4 separate regions of the Homo sapiens genome follow, and all the other regions are reported to be linked to region 3. Evidence: microRNA targets listed by miRTarBase, many of them from high-throughput screens and not tested one by one. Region 3 holds a microRNA gene; each other region holds the end of a gene's coding sequence.
The links. Region 3 holds the annotated microRNA hsa-miR-519d-3p (CAAAGUGCCUCCCUUUAGAGUG, at 1,685-1,706, opposite strand). A microRNA usually pairs through its seed, bases 2 to 8, with sites in the 3' UTR of a target mRNA and lowers its output. Matches are read on the target gene's strand: a 7mer-m8 pairs with bases 2 to 8, a 7mer-A1 pairs with bases 2 to 7 and ends in A, and an 8mer does both.

Region 1: miRTarBase lists SMAD5 as a target of hsa-miR-519d-3p. Seed matches in the 3' UTR shown: 7mer-m8 at 1,234-1,240 and 7mer-m8 at 1,712-1,718.
Region 2: miRTarBase lists GNS as a target of hsa-miR-519d-3p. Seed matches in the 3' UTR shown: 7mer-m8 at 1,157-1,163.
Region 4: miRTarBase lists RPA2 as a target of hsa-miR-519d-3p. Seed matches in the 3' UTR shown: 7mer-m8 at 812-818.

The regions. Positions count from the first base shown.
Region 1 is chr5:136,177,095-136,180,094 of GRCh38, forward strand. SMAD5 (SMAD family member 5) reads left to right here. Exons shown (of 8, transcript NM_005903.7): 8 at 243-3,000. The coding sequence ends at 386. Among named protein-coding and RNA genes, the nearest start is that of SMIM32, 15 kb to the right of the region's middle.
Region 2 is chr12:64,713,892-64,716,891 of GRCh38, forward strand. It overlaps GNS (glucosamine (N-acetyl)-6-sulfatase), which reads right to left. Exons shown (of 14, transcript NM_002076.4): 14 at 1-2,928. The coding sequence ends at 2,850. Among named protein-coding and RNA genes, the nearest start is that of GNS, 44 kb to the right of the region's middle.
Region 3 is chr19:53,711,860-53,715,105 of GRCh38, reverse strand. It overlaps MIR519D (microRNA 519d), which reads right to left and starts at 1,759; the gene lies at 1,672-1,759. It overlaps MIR517A (microRNA 517a), which reads right to left and starts at 2,838; the gene lies at 2,752-2,838.
Region 4 is chr1:27,889,516-27,892,515 of GRCh38, reverse strand. RPA2 (replication protein A2) reads left to right here. Exons shown (of 9, transcript NM_002946.5): 9 at 269-992. The coding sequence ends at 353. Among named protein-coding and RNA genes, the nearest start is that of THEMIS2, 18 kb to the right of the region's middle. RefSeq lists a silencer at 1,682-1,751.

The DNA of each region.
Region 1 (3,000 bases), not on the chromosome of region 3:
CTCTAAGGGTTTCTTTTAAGGGAATTATATATTATTTTAGAATTCATGAATCTTTAAATAATGTAGCTGTTGTCTTTTAATTTCATGGTGAATACTAAGACTGGTTTTGTGATAGTTATTCTCTTTATGTAACTTCTACATATCTCTACTGTTAAAAGCTATCTTTTTCTTATGGTAAAATTGGTTTAGAGTGGTTGACAGTTTAAAGAGGGATTTGTGATGATATCTGTTCATTTTCATAGGGTTGGGGAGCAGAATATCACCGGCAGGATGTAACCAGCACCCCATGTTGGATTGAGATTCATCTTCATGGGCCTCTTCAGTGGCTGGATAAAGTCCTTACTCAGATGGGCTCCCCTCTGAACCCCATATCTTCTGTTTCATAATGCAGAAGTATTCTTTTCAATTATATTGTTAGTGGACTTGTTTTAATTTTAGAGAAACTTTGAGTACAGATACTGTGAGCTTACATTGAAAACAGATATTACAGCTTATTTTTTTCTACATAATTGTGACCAATACATTTGTATTTTGTGATGAATCTACATTTGTTTGTATTCATGTTCATGTGATTAACTCTTAGAAGTGTTGTAAAAGATGCAGAGTAAGTATTATGCCCCAGTTCAGAAATTTGGCATTGATCTTAAACTGGAACATGCTTTTACTTTATTGCCCTAACAATTTTTTATTAAATTTATTTGAAAATGCATCACATGATGAAAAATTATAGTAGCTTATAAGAGGGCATATACAGTGAAGAGTAAGTTTTCCCTCCTACTCTCGATCTTCCAGAAGCTGTACTTTTACCAGTTTCTTTGTCCCACCAACTTAAAAAAAAAAAGTACAATTCATTGTTTTGCAAAAGTGTATGGTAGGGGCTTAAAAGAAACTATAAAGTTTTATTTGAATGAACACTATGCACTGCTGTAACTGGTAGTGTTCAGTAAAAGCAAAATGATAGTTTTCTAGATGACATAAAATTTACATTTAATACAGATAAGTGTTCTTCAGTGTAATGTGACTTCATGCTATATATCTTTTGTAAGACATTTCCTTTTTTAAAAAAATTTTTGCAAATAACTGATCTCAAGTATATGTCATTTACTCAAAATCTGTCATAAGCATTACTTTATAGCTAGTGACAGTGCATGCACAGCCTTGTTCAACTATGTTTGCTGCTTTTGGACAATGTTGCAAGAACTCTATTTTTGACATGCATTAATCTTTTATTTTGCACTTTTATGGGTGACAGTTTTTAGCATAACCTTTGATAAAATACACTCAAGTGACTTGGACTTAGATGCTTATCCTTACGTCCTTGGTACCTTTTTTGTATTAACAAACACTGCAATTTATAGATTACATTTGTAGGAAGTTATGCTTTTTTCTGGTTTTTGTTTTACTTTCAACCTAGGTTATAAGACTGTTATTCTATAGCTCCAACTTAAGGTGCCTTTTTAATTCCCTACAGTTTTATGGGTGTTATCAGTGCTGGAGAATCATGTAGTTAATCCCATTGCTCTTACAAGTGTCAGCTTACTTGTATCAGCCTCCCTACGCAAGGACCTATGCACTGGAGCCGTAGGAGGCTCTTCAGTTGGGCCCCAAGGATAAGGCTACTGATTTGATACTAAATGAATCAGCAGTGGATGTAGGGATAGCTGATTTTAAAACACTCGGCTGGGCACAGTGGCTCACACCTGTAATCCCAGCACTTTGGGAGGCTGAGGCAGGCAGATCATGATGTCAGGAGTTTGAGACCAGCCTGGCCAATATGGTGAAACCCTGTCTCTACAAAAAATACAAAAATTAGCTGGGCATGGTGGTGCGTGCCTGAAGTCCCAGCTACTCGGGAAGCTGAGGCAGAAGAATCACTTGAACCTGGGAGGCGGAGGTTGTGGTGAGCCGAGATCGCACCACTGCACTCCAGCCTGGGCGACAGAGCGAGACTCTGCCTCAAAAAACAAAACAAAACAAAACACTCACCCATCAACGAATATAGACTCTTCTCTCATTTATCGATGATCCTCTTTTTCCATTTTTTAAGTACTTATGTGGAAGCTAGTCTCCCAAAACACAATCTTTAGAGAGAAAAGACATGAACGAACTCCAAAATATCCATTTAATCAATCATGTTTTTGGCTTTGGATAAAGAACTTTGAACCAGTTTTTTTCTCAGGAGCTGTCAAATGGACACTTAATTATGACATGAGAATGAAGAAATTATTTTGGAAAAAAAAAATGACCTAATTTACCTATCAGTGAAAGCTTTATTTTCTGGTGCCTTTTGAAAGTATATGGAGTCATATCATTCTTCTGTTTAAAATGTTAGTTTGGTTTGACTTTCCACTTTGTCCTTTCTGCTCTTGTGAAGAAAAAAAAAAGCATTTTCGAGGAAAGAATTATGCAATTTCTTTTGTTTTCTGTGTCATTATTTATTGCTTTTTCAATGTGCAGCCAGTGGATGGTTTTAGTTCTTTCAGATGAACTGCCATTTGTGTTTCAGCTCACAGTTCTTTGCTGGGTAAAAGAAATACTTTCTGACAGTCACCTGAGCCTTAAATGTAAGTATTACATGACATGCATTCTGTTTCTTCCAGAGTTCTGTCTGCCACACGAAAGAGAATATTTGCTTACTTGATAGAACTTTGGCATTTTCATCATTCTTTTACTTAACCAGGCTTATGGCATGATCTCTGGAACAAATTTGTAGGAAAAAATTACTCCAATTGAATGACTGATGTATGTAATCAACTTCATTGGGCTGCAGTAAACTAGTGGAAATTAGAGAGTTGTTTTATTGGTGTTTTCTACTGTGAGTTAATTAAAAATTGTTTTTATTTGGGGTCATTATGTCACAGTCTTGAGTTAACAAGATCTTACGTGATTGGCCTTTTCTTTGTTTTCTCTTAGGAGTTGTGTCTCATGAATGACAGTACTAAAGCTATTAACAACTAAGAGTTTGACAGAGAACTATAAGCCTGTTGTATCTCCTAAAAG
Region 2 (3,000 bases), not on the chromosome of region 3:
GAGGCCGAGAAAGGTGGATCACCTGAGGTCAGGAGTTAATCAGCCTGGCCAACATGGTGAAACCCCGTCTCTACTAAAATTACAAAAATCAGCCAGGTGGGGTGGCAGGCGCCTGTAATCTCAGCTACTTGGGAGGCTGAGGCAGGAGAACTGCTGGAACCCAGGAGGTGGAAGTTGCAGTGAGCCGAGATCACGCCACTGCACTCCAGCCCGGGTGACAACCGCGAGACTTCATCTCAAAAAAAAAGTGTTTGCAACAGCACCATTTGTCAAATTCAAAGATGCTCAAAAGGTGTTCCCTACTTTGCATGAGAGGGAGAGCTTTGTAACAGGAAATTGTATAAGGCAAACTCTCTATTCATTCCTAAGGCCTCTGTTCATTCCTAATGTTTACATGGTTCTCTACTCTGAAGGGCACCAACATGGACCTCACCTTCTTAACATGGAAAATCAAAATCTAAATGAATACAATTAAAAGGAGGCAGCAAGCTTCTTGCAGTGGGTCCCTTAAACATTATGAAAACATCAGTGCATTGTGTAGTCTGTTACGCTATAAACTGAGGTCTCTTTATGAAAGATTATTTTAGCACAAATTCAGAATGAAGCCAGTCCAAGAAAAAAAGAATTGGAAGCTATTTGAAGGTTAGATAGGAAATATACCAAAAATAGAAGAGCGTAGAGAGGGCTGCACCACATCCTACCACGCAAGCACACCCACTGAACTGAGTAAGAGTGGCGTGGCTGAGGTGCCGTCAGCAGCTGACTATGTCACTCTTATGAGTTCTGCTCAGGAACAAGCATAAAACTGAATAATATGACATCACAGTCCAAGACCTGGTAAGAGTTGGTTTCTTTTTATTTGGAAATAACTATGGTCAACTTTCATTAATGTGGAAGTTGACTGATAATGTTAAGAGTCAAAGTGAAAAAGAAAGCCGATACCCATATTCAACAGTGCTTTCAGTTACAACATTTTTTGAATTTCCTTCTCTAAAACATTCACAGCAGAGGTGTCCATTTCACTTGCCTGTTTCACCTCTAGATACCACCACAGTTGCTGGGGTCATGTGAGGTAAAGGAATATATCCAATTGACTGTTAGCCCAACATGACTATCTGCAATTCTGATAGAAAAGCTACTTTCAGCCATGTCTTACAAAGTGCTTAAAGCTGGACAGAAGACTTTAAATAAAGCTAAAATCGCTTATTGCCTGAGTTGAACAAGTTACAAACCACAGCTCTTCCTCCTCCCCTGCTGTCTCACCACCAATTAGCCTTCTTGTGAGGACAACATTAGAAATGGAACTGGTTTTTGAGCCAAGAAACATAAAAATTTAGGTGTTCTTAGCCAAGCGTGGTGGCTCATGCCTGTAATCCCAGCACTCTGGGAGGCCGAGGTGGGTGGATCACAAGGTCAGGAGTTCAAGACCAGCCTGGCCAACATGGTGAAACTCTGTCTCTACTAAAAATACAAAAAATTAGCTGGGCGTGGTGGTGCGTGCCTATAATCCCAGCTACTCAGGAGGCGGAGGCAGGAGAATCGCTTGAACCCAGGAGGCGAAGGTTGCAGTGAGCTGAGATCATGCCATTGCACTCCAGCCTGGGTGACATAGTGAGACTCTGTCCCCACTTCTCAAAAATAAAAACATTTAGGTGTTCTCAACAGTGAAGAAACCTGAATAGATTTGATTTTGACAGGGGAATACTGATAATCATACAAGACTCCAAAACTCAGGAAGAACCCATCTAAAAGGGGAGAAGGTAGGGTAAAGTAGTTGATACTTTGCATCAACTGTAAGAAAATTTTCCACCTTAAAACAAATGAAGAGAATGACAGAAAAATGCAGATAGAGCCAATGACTTCATACATGGAACTTAAATTCAAGCTCCCTGCTGGACAGGCACTTCTTTCCTTTATCCCTGGTACAGCCCTTCCACTTGTCTGTTCAAGAGCCCTGTCTTCAGAAGGCCCTCGGAAGAGACAACCTTCACCAACTCTTGGCAGTTCTTCACTGCTGATGTTCCTAAGCCACTTCATTTTTCAGATCTCAGAGGGGAGTCTCAAGAGAAGGGACCTTGCCTTAATCCTTCCAGTGTTAACTGGCACTCCCTGTGGTTGGCAGCCACTGGAAAGTAGATGGCTATCACCTTCAAGAGCTACCTGGAATTGGCCTTTATCACAAGCTTACTGCTCTATTTCAGTGCAGCACCAGCCTAGAATTCACAAAAACATGAACAGAGCTTGGGTGACATGTTTTGAATTTGCAACCTTACCACACTGTGATGAACATCATAAAAAATGTATCTCTACTTATCAATCAACAATGGTACTTGTTCTTACTTGGATGATTCAGCTCTGATGGTTACTCTTCAAGCCATGTGATGTTAGTATTTTTGATAGTGAAGTGCTCAATCTGAAATGCTACACAGGTCCTTTGACTTTAGGTCAAGCTTACATATCAAAAGGTGTGTCTGTGTGTTTGTGTGTGTCCTAAAGTACTGCCATTTATCTGAATGGGTTTACAAATTCAGTCTTTAACCACAAGAGGAATAATCAAGAACTGTGGCCCCAGGATAAAAAGAATACAGTGAGAACAAAGACCTCAGGAGTGTCCTTGTCAGCTAAAGGAAGAGACCAGAGACAGCCACTCCTGACACATGGGCAGAGTTCACAGTTTAACACATTGCACGAGGAAGTCAGCTGACTGGGTTGCTTTTTCAAACAGGACTTAAAGCCAGCCCAGAAACTCTTCCAGGTGTGGTCTTGAAGACTAGCTACAGACACCTACTACAATCACTTCATCAGAAAGAGGCGTGCAGGGATCCATCTGCAGAGGCTGTGTGAGGTCGCTACAGAAGATGTTTGGAAAATCTTCGAGTCCTGACACTGCCGCGATTGCTGAACATGAGACGGGGGTCAAACCTGTATCTGGGGAGGAAAAACCAAATGTAACATTAGCTCTCACTAGCTTCTCACTCAGAATATTATTCAGTGGAAAGG
Region 3 (3,246 bases):
TGGCTTGATTTCAGCTCACTGAAATCTCCTCCTCCTGGGTTCAAGGGATTCTCCTGCCTCAGCCTCCGGAGTAGCTGGAATTACAGATGTGCACCATTGCACCCAGCTAATTTTTGTATTTTTAGTAGAGACGAGGCTTTGCCATGTTGGCCCTGTTGGTCTTGAACTCCTGACCTCAGGTGATCCTCCCGTCTCGGCCTCCCAAAGTGCTGGGATTACAGGCATGCGCCACCGCGCCCGGCCTATTTTTTACTTTCTTGAGACTGAGTCTCACTCTGTTGCCCAGGGTGGAGTGCAGCAGAAGATTTCAGCTCACTGAAAGCTCAGCCTCCTGGCTTCATGTTGGCCAGGCTGGTCTCGAACAACTGATCTCAGGTGATCCTCCTGTCTCAGCCTCACAAAGTGCAGGAATTACAGACAAGAGCCACCATATGCACACTAGTCCCATATTTAAAATTAGGAAAAAAAAAAACAAAACAAAGATGCCCACACCTGAACAGCAAATCGTTTGTTGTTCAAGTACATCTCAAATACATTGTTTATCTAAAATACAAGTTTAACTGGGGTCAGGTATGAACCAAAGAACAGTCCTTACTTTCTTCTTGTCTGTGCATGGGGGGTTAATATTCACATGTGGTCCCATCTACCAAGGACTGGGGAGGGGCAGAGGCAGGAGGATCTAAGCCCACTTCAGCCAGGGCAGCATAGTGAGACCGCCGTCTCATGCATTTATCTCCTGGTCATGCACCCAGATTTCAGCTTCATTTCCCCAATAAACACTGAAGCCCCATGCACTCCACCTCCGTGCTCTTGCTCATCCCATCTGCAGGGACACTGAGGTCCCCTCAACTCCACCTGACCCCACGTGAGGTTCTATACCAGTGCCAGAAAAATTTCCATAAAGTAAAAGGTGCTGATGGCTGTGCCCGGTGGCTCACGCCTGTATTCTCAGCACTTTGGGAGGCCGAGGCCAGCGGCTCACTTGAGGTCAGGGGTTTGAGACTAGCCTGGCCAACATGGTGAAACCCCACCTTTACTAAAAAAAAAAAAAAAAAAAAAAAATCAAAATCAAAAAGTAGCTGGTTGTAGTGGTGGGTGCCTGTAATTCCACCTACTCAGGAGACTGAGGCAGGAGAATGGCTTGAACCTGAGAGGCAGAGGTTGGAGTCAGCCGGGATCATGCCACTGCCCTCCAGGCTGGGTGACAGCAACACTCCATCTCAAAAATGAATGAATGAATAAAAAAGAAAAATACAAATATTAGCCGAGTGTGATGTCAGGCATCTGTAATCCCAGCTACCCAGGAAGCTGAGGCAGGAGAATCACTCGAACCCGGGAGGTGGAGGTTGCATTGAGCCAAGATCGCGCCACTGCACTCCAGTCTGGGTCACAGAGCAAGACTGTATCCCATAAAAGGACCATCTGAGCCCAACAGGCCTATCTTAAAAAGTGCTTCTCTAGTCTCTCCTGGGCAACAGAGACCTTGTCTTAGAAAAAAAAAAAAACACAAAACAAAACACACACACCAAAACAAAAAACAAAAACCTAACAAACAAAAAAACCAACCAAACAAACAAACAAAAAAACAGACTCCCAACATCATCCAAGTCTGATTACAAGCATGGTCTGCAAATGTATTACCAAGATCAGCATCATCTTCAACGTGGCTTTTCCCAAACGGTAACACTCTAAAGGGAGGCACTTTGTTTAAGAGAAAACAAACAGAAAGCGCTTCCCTTTGGAGGGTCACAGCATGGGATCTTCTTGCTCCAGCACTCTGGGTTTTTTGTTGAAATCTTCCTTGACCAGGTTAAAATGGCCACAACAATAAAGATGCATTTATTGGCCCTGTTTGCCTGTTTTCTAGAATCCAGAACATAAACCCCTAAAAGGACCATCTCCAGTTCCTTTCTTCAAAGGCTCTGCAGGTTAGCCTTGTTCATCAAGGGGCAACCCTCCTGAGTTTTGCCTCTAAAGAGAAAAAGCAATGCCTACTACACATACCTTATATTTAACCAAGAGAACTGGGCTGGATTTCTAGAGAACAGCAATGGACTTTGAGCTGAGTGTTCACTTGAGTTCCAGCACAGGGATACATAGTTCCGATGGGAGCATCCAAAATGGAGTCTAAGATGTTGAAGAATATACATTGTCACACACACAAACATCCTCCAGGATAGACCACAGGCTAGTGGATCACCTGAAAGCGGGAGTTCAAGACTAGCCTGGCCAACATGGTGAAACCCGTCTCTACTAAAAACATAAAAATTAGCTGGGTGGGGCAGTAGGTGCCTGTAATCCCAACTACCTGGGAGGCTGAGGCAGAAGCATCACTCGAACCCAGGAGGCGGAGGTTGCAGTGAGCCTAGATCATGCCAGTGCTCTCCAGGATGGGCAGCAAGAGTGCAGGACACGATGGTGGGTGCCTGATGCCTGAATTCCCAACAATTCGGCAGGCTGAGGTGGGAGAATCACTGGAACCCGAGAGGTGGAGTTTCCGGTGAGCAGAGATCCTGCTACTGCACTCCCAACGAAACAAGAGTGTGTCTCAAAAAATCAAAAAATAAAAAGAGGACCACTTAAGCCCAAGAAATCTTGGTGGAAGGTGCTATCCACCCACGCCTGGGCAATAGAAAGCCTGTCTTGGAAAAATTTCAAATCACAAACAGAACCCCGACATCATGCAAGTCTGATGATAAGCACGCTCTGCAAATGTATTACCAAGATCAGCAGCATCTTCAACGTTGCTTGTCTCAAACAGTAACACTCTAAAGGGATGCACGATCTTTTCTTTTATACAACAGACAGTGCTTCCATCTAGAGGGTCACTGCCTGAGATCTTCTTTTTTTTGACACGGAGTCTCACTCTGCCGCCCAGGCTGGATGCGGTGGTGGGATCTCGGCTCATGGCAACTTCTGCCTCCTGGGTTCAAGCGATTCTTCTGCGTCAGCCTCCTGAGTAGCTGGGATTAGAGGCACCCACCACCATGCATATTGCATATATGACTGCATATATGACCTGGTCATGCACCCAAGATGTTGGTTTCATTTCCCCAGTGAAAACTCAAACCCCATGCACTCCACCTCCGTGCTCTTGCTGAGCACATCCCATCTGCAAGGGACACTGAGGTCCCCCTTTGACTCTACCTGACCCCACATGAGGCTTTATAAATCAGTGCCAGAATAATTTCCATGGACTAAAAGGTGTTAATGGCCATGTGTGGTGGCTCACGCCTGTAATCTTAG
Region 4 (3,000 bases), not on the chromosome of region 3:
TGAGGCCCTGTTGTCTTTCCTTTGCACAATTTGGGAGAGGGATCCAAGACAGCCCTAATAGCCATTGTCTCCATGAATAAGCTCTGTTTTGCTATTTTACTGGCATTTCTCCCTGTGAGAGCTTTCTATGTGCAGAATACTTGTGAATTCTTAGCTAAGGTAGAAAGTTGGGAGATAAGCGAAGTTTGCATATTTGGCCATATCCAAAAGGCAGTTTCCTTCTGAATTGGCCTGAAAATGACCTTTTTTTTTTCTTCTTTCTTTCTAGGCAAGCTGTGGATTTTCTGAGCAATGAGGGGCACATCTATTCTACTGTGGATGATGACCATTTTAAATCCACAGATGCAGAATAACTGGATCTAACTGGGTACCTGAGATATTTTACAGCTGGACCTAGTTTCACAATCTGTTGTCTCCAGCTCTGCATATGTCTGGCCAGGGGGCTTCTAGGAAGTAGGTTTCATCTATCAAATGTCTCCTCTGACTTCCTTTTGAAACTTACTGCTCTTCTGTTTTATTTTGTTTTGTTTGAAGCTCAGAGGGAGATGGGCAATTGACAGGGATGCAATCCAGGGTGGGATTTCTTGAGGAAGTTACAAATAAGCTTGTTACAACATCAAGATAGATGGAATTGGAAGGATGCTACCAGGAGAGTACTTACATAGTGCTCAGGAGTTTCTCTTCTTAAAATGTTTACTGCTGAAAGATGAGCAGGACCAGGGCGTTATAGGCAGAGCCCTAGCCGAGAAACCTGCTGGCCTCTGCCTGTTTTCATTTCCCACTTTGGTTGTGTGGCATTACTTTCAGAATTGCACTTTCCTGCTTGTCATGACTTTTTGACACACTTGCCATGACGTGTGTTTCTGTGAACATGAAGTTCTGCGGTAGTGCCTCCAGGGGCAGAGGAAAAGAAGAAGTGTTACTGCATTTTGTACAAAATAAATACAGTCATATGTTTAATAAAACAGTTCTATTGTAGTAACTTGTAAAAATTCTCGTTTTTCTTTCTGAGCAGTGTAATGACCACTTTATCATCTGAGGCAGTGTAACATAGTGAAACTTGGATTTGAATTCTGGCTTTCCCACTTTTTAGTTAGAATCTTGAGCAGGCTATGTCAGCTCTGAGAACCTCCATTTCCTCATTTACAAAAAGAAAACGTTATTTCCCCTGGGTTTGTTGTGAAGATTGAAAAAAACATAGTCTGTAAAGCGTCTAAATCTAGTATTGCCATTTAAAGGGATTATATAATGGACTTTAATGTTGACTCTTTGGCAGTGTGTGATCATGTAACTGAATCAAATAGCTACCCATTTGGCCTCAAGATGAGACTTTCCAAAAGCCTATGGTCATTTTTTGGCCAACTTGATTGGCTGTTTCTTACAGAAAAAGAAACTAGTTCAATGATGTTTTTGACAACTCCTGAAAGTAATCTACATCTTGAATAAAAGAACCAATTTTGAGATAAAGTTAGTGAGACGTAACATCCCAATAAGAATTCTCTGGCCGGGCGCGGTGGCTCACGCCTGTAATCCCAGCTCTTTGGGAGGCCGAGGCAGGCAGATCACAAGGTCAGGAGATCGAGATCATCCTGGCTAATTCGGTGAAACTCCATCTCTGCTAAAAATACAAAAAATTAGCCAGGCAAGGTGGTGGGCGCCTGTAGTCCCAGCTACTCAGGAGGCTGAGGCAGGAGAATGGTGTGAACCCGGGAGGCAGAGCTTGCAGTGAGCCGAGATTGCACAACTGCATTCCAGCCTGGGCAACAGAGCGAGACTCTGTCTCAAAAAAAAGAATTCTCTGCTTTAACTCTGTTTCTAAATGAGATCTAGCAGCTGTGTAGAGAAGGCTCCACCTACTTGGTTTCTAACAGTGGATGAATGTATGGTTGTTTTCTATACATGCAGAGTTGTTAACATCTGCGGAACTATGCAAATGTGTAAAACTCAGCCAGCATGTTCATTTGCAAGTGTGTTCCTTCTTGGTTATTTTCTCAAAGAACAATGACTAAAAACAAGTAAAATCGTGTATTTGAATTTGGAATATATGACGGGATACTTTTATGGTTGGTAAACTTCTCTTTCTAGTTATGAAGCTGGGTGCCCTCAAATGGGCAAAGCGGTAGCAGTACTTGTAGGTGGAAGTGGTTTTCTTTTTTCTTTATTTTTATTTTTATTTTTTTTTAGACAGAGCCTTGCTGTGTTGCCCAGGCTGGAGTGCAGTGGTGCAATCTCAGCTCACTGCAAGCTCCGCCTCCCATGTTCAAGTGATTCTCCTGCCTCAGTCTCCCGAGTAGCTGGGACTATAGGCGCATGCCACCATACCCAGCTAATTTTTGTATTTTTAGTAGAGACAGGGTTTCACCGTGTTAGCCAGGATGGTCTCGATCTCCTGACCTCATGATCCGCCCACCTTGGCCTCCCAAGGTGCTGGGATTATAGGCGTGAGCCTGACCGGTTTTTTTTTCTTTTGATAAAAATCAGATGACGACTTAGCAATTAACAACTGCTTGTTAATTTAGTGCTTATTGGATACCTGCTGTATCAACCCGTAGGTCAGGTACTAGGAATATAAAGCACAATAAGAGATTGGCGTCACGGGACAGGCTGGTTCAGCATTCCCAGCAGCACAGAATAGTTGCTCAGTGGTGCTGGATTCCCTGCCATCTTGCCATTTCCACAGTCTCATGGGGGTTGTGTGATTTCTGACCGCTGCTGGGACCTGTGGGATGAGCACAGGCAGGAGAGCCAGCCAGGCCACTTCTCAGAATGAAACTCCAGGCTTTGTAGAGCTTCTGCTCTGCTCAGGCAGGACAAACTTGCATCTTGGGCATTTGTGGTCCACCTGATAGGTCACATGTACAGTGTTCTCTTGGCCCATTGTTGAGATAGCCGTGTGACCCAGGTTCTTAGAAACCACCAGTGTCACGGCCTAGCAATGGGTCCAGCCTGCTCATAGGAGAATCCCTACATATACAGGTGGGAAATGAGGCTCCTTGGAGA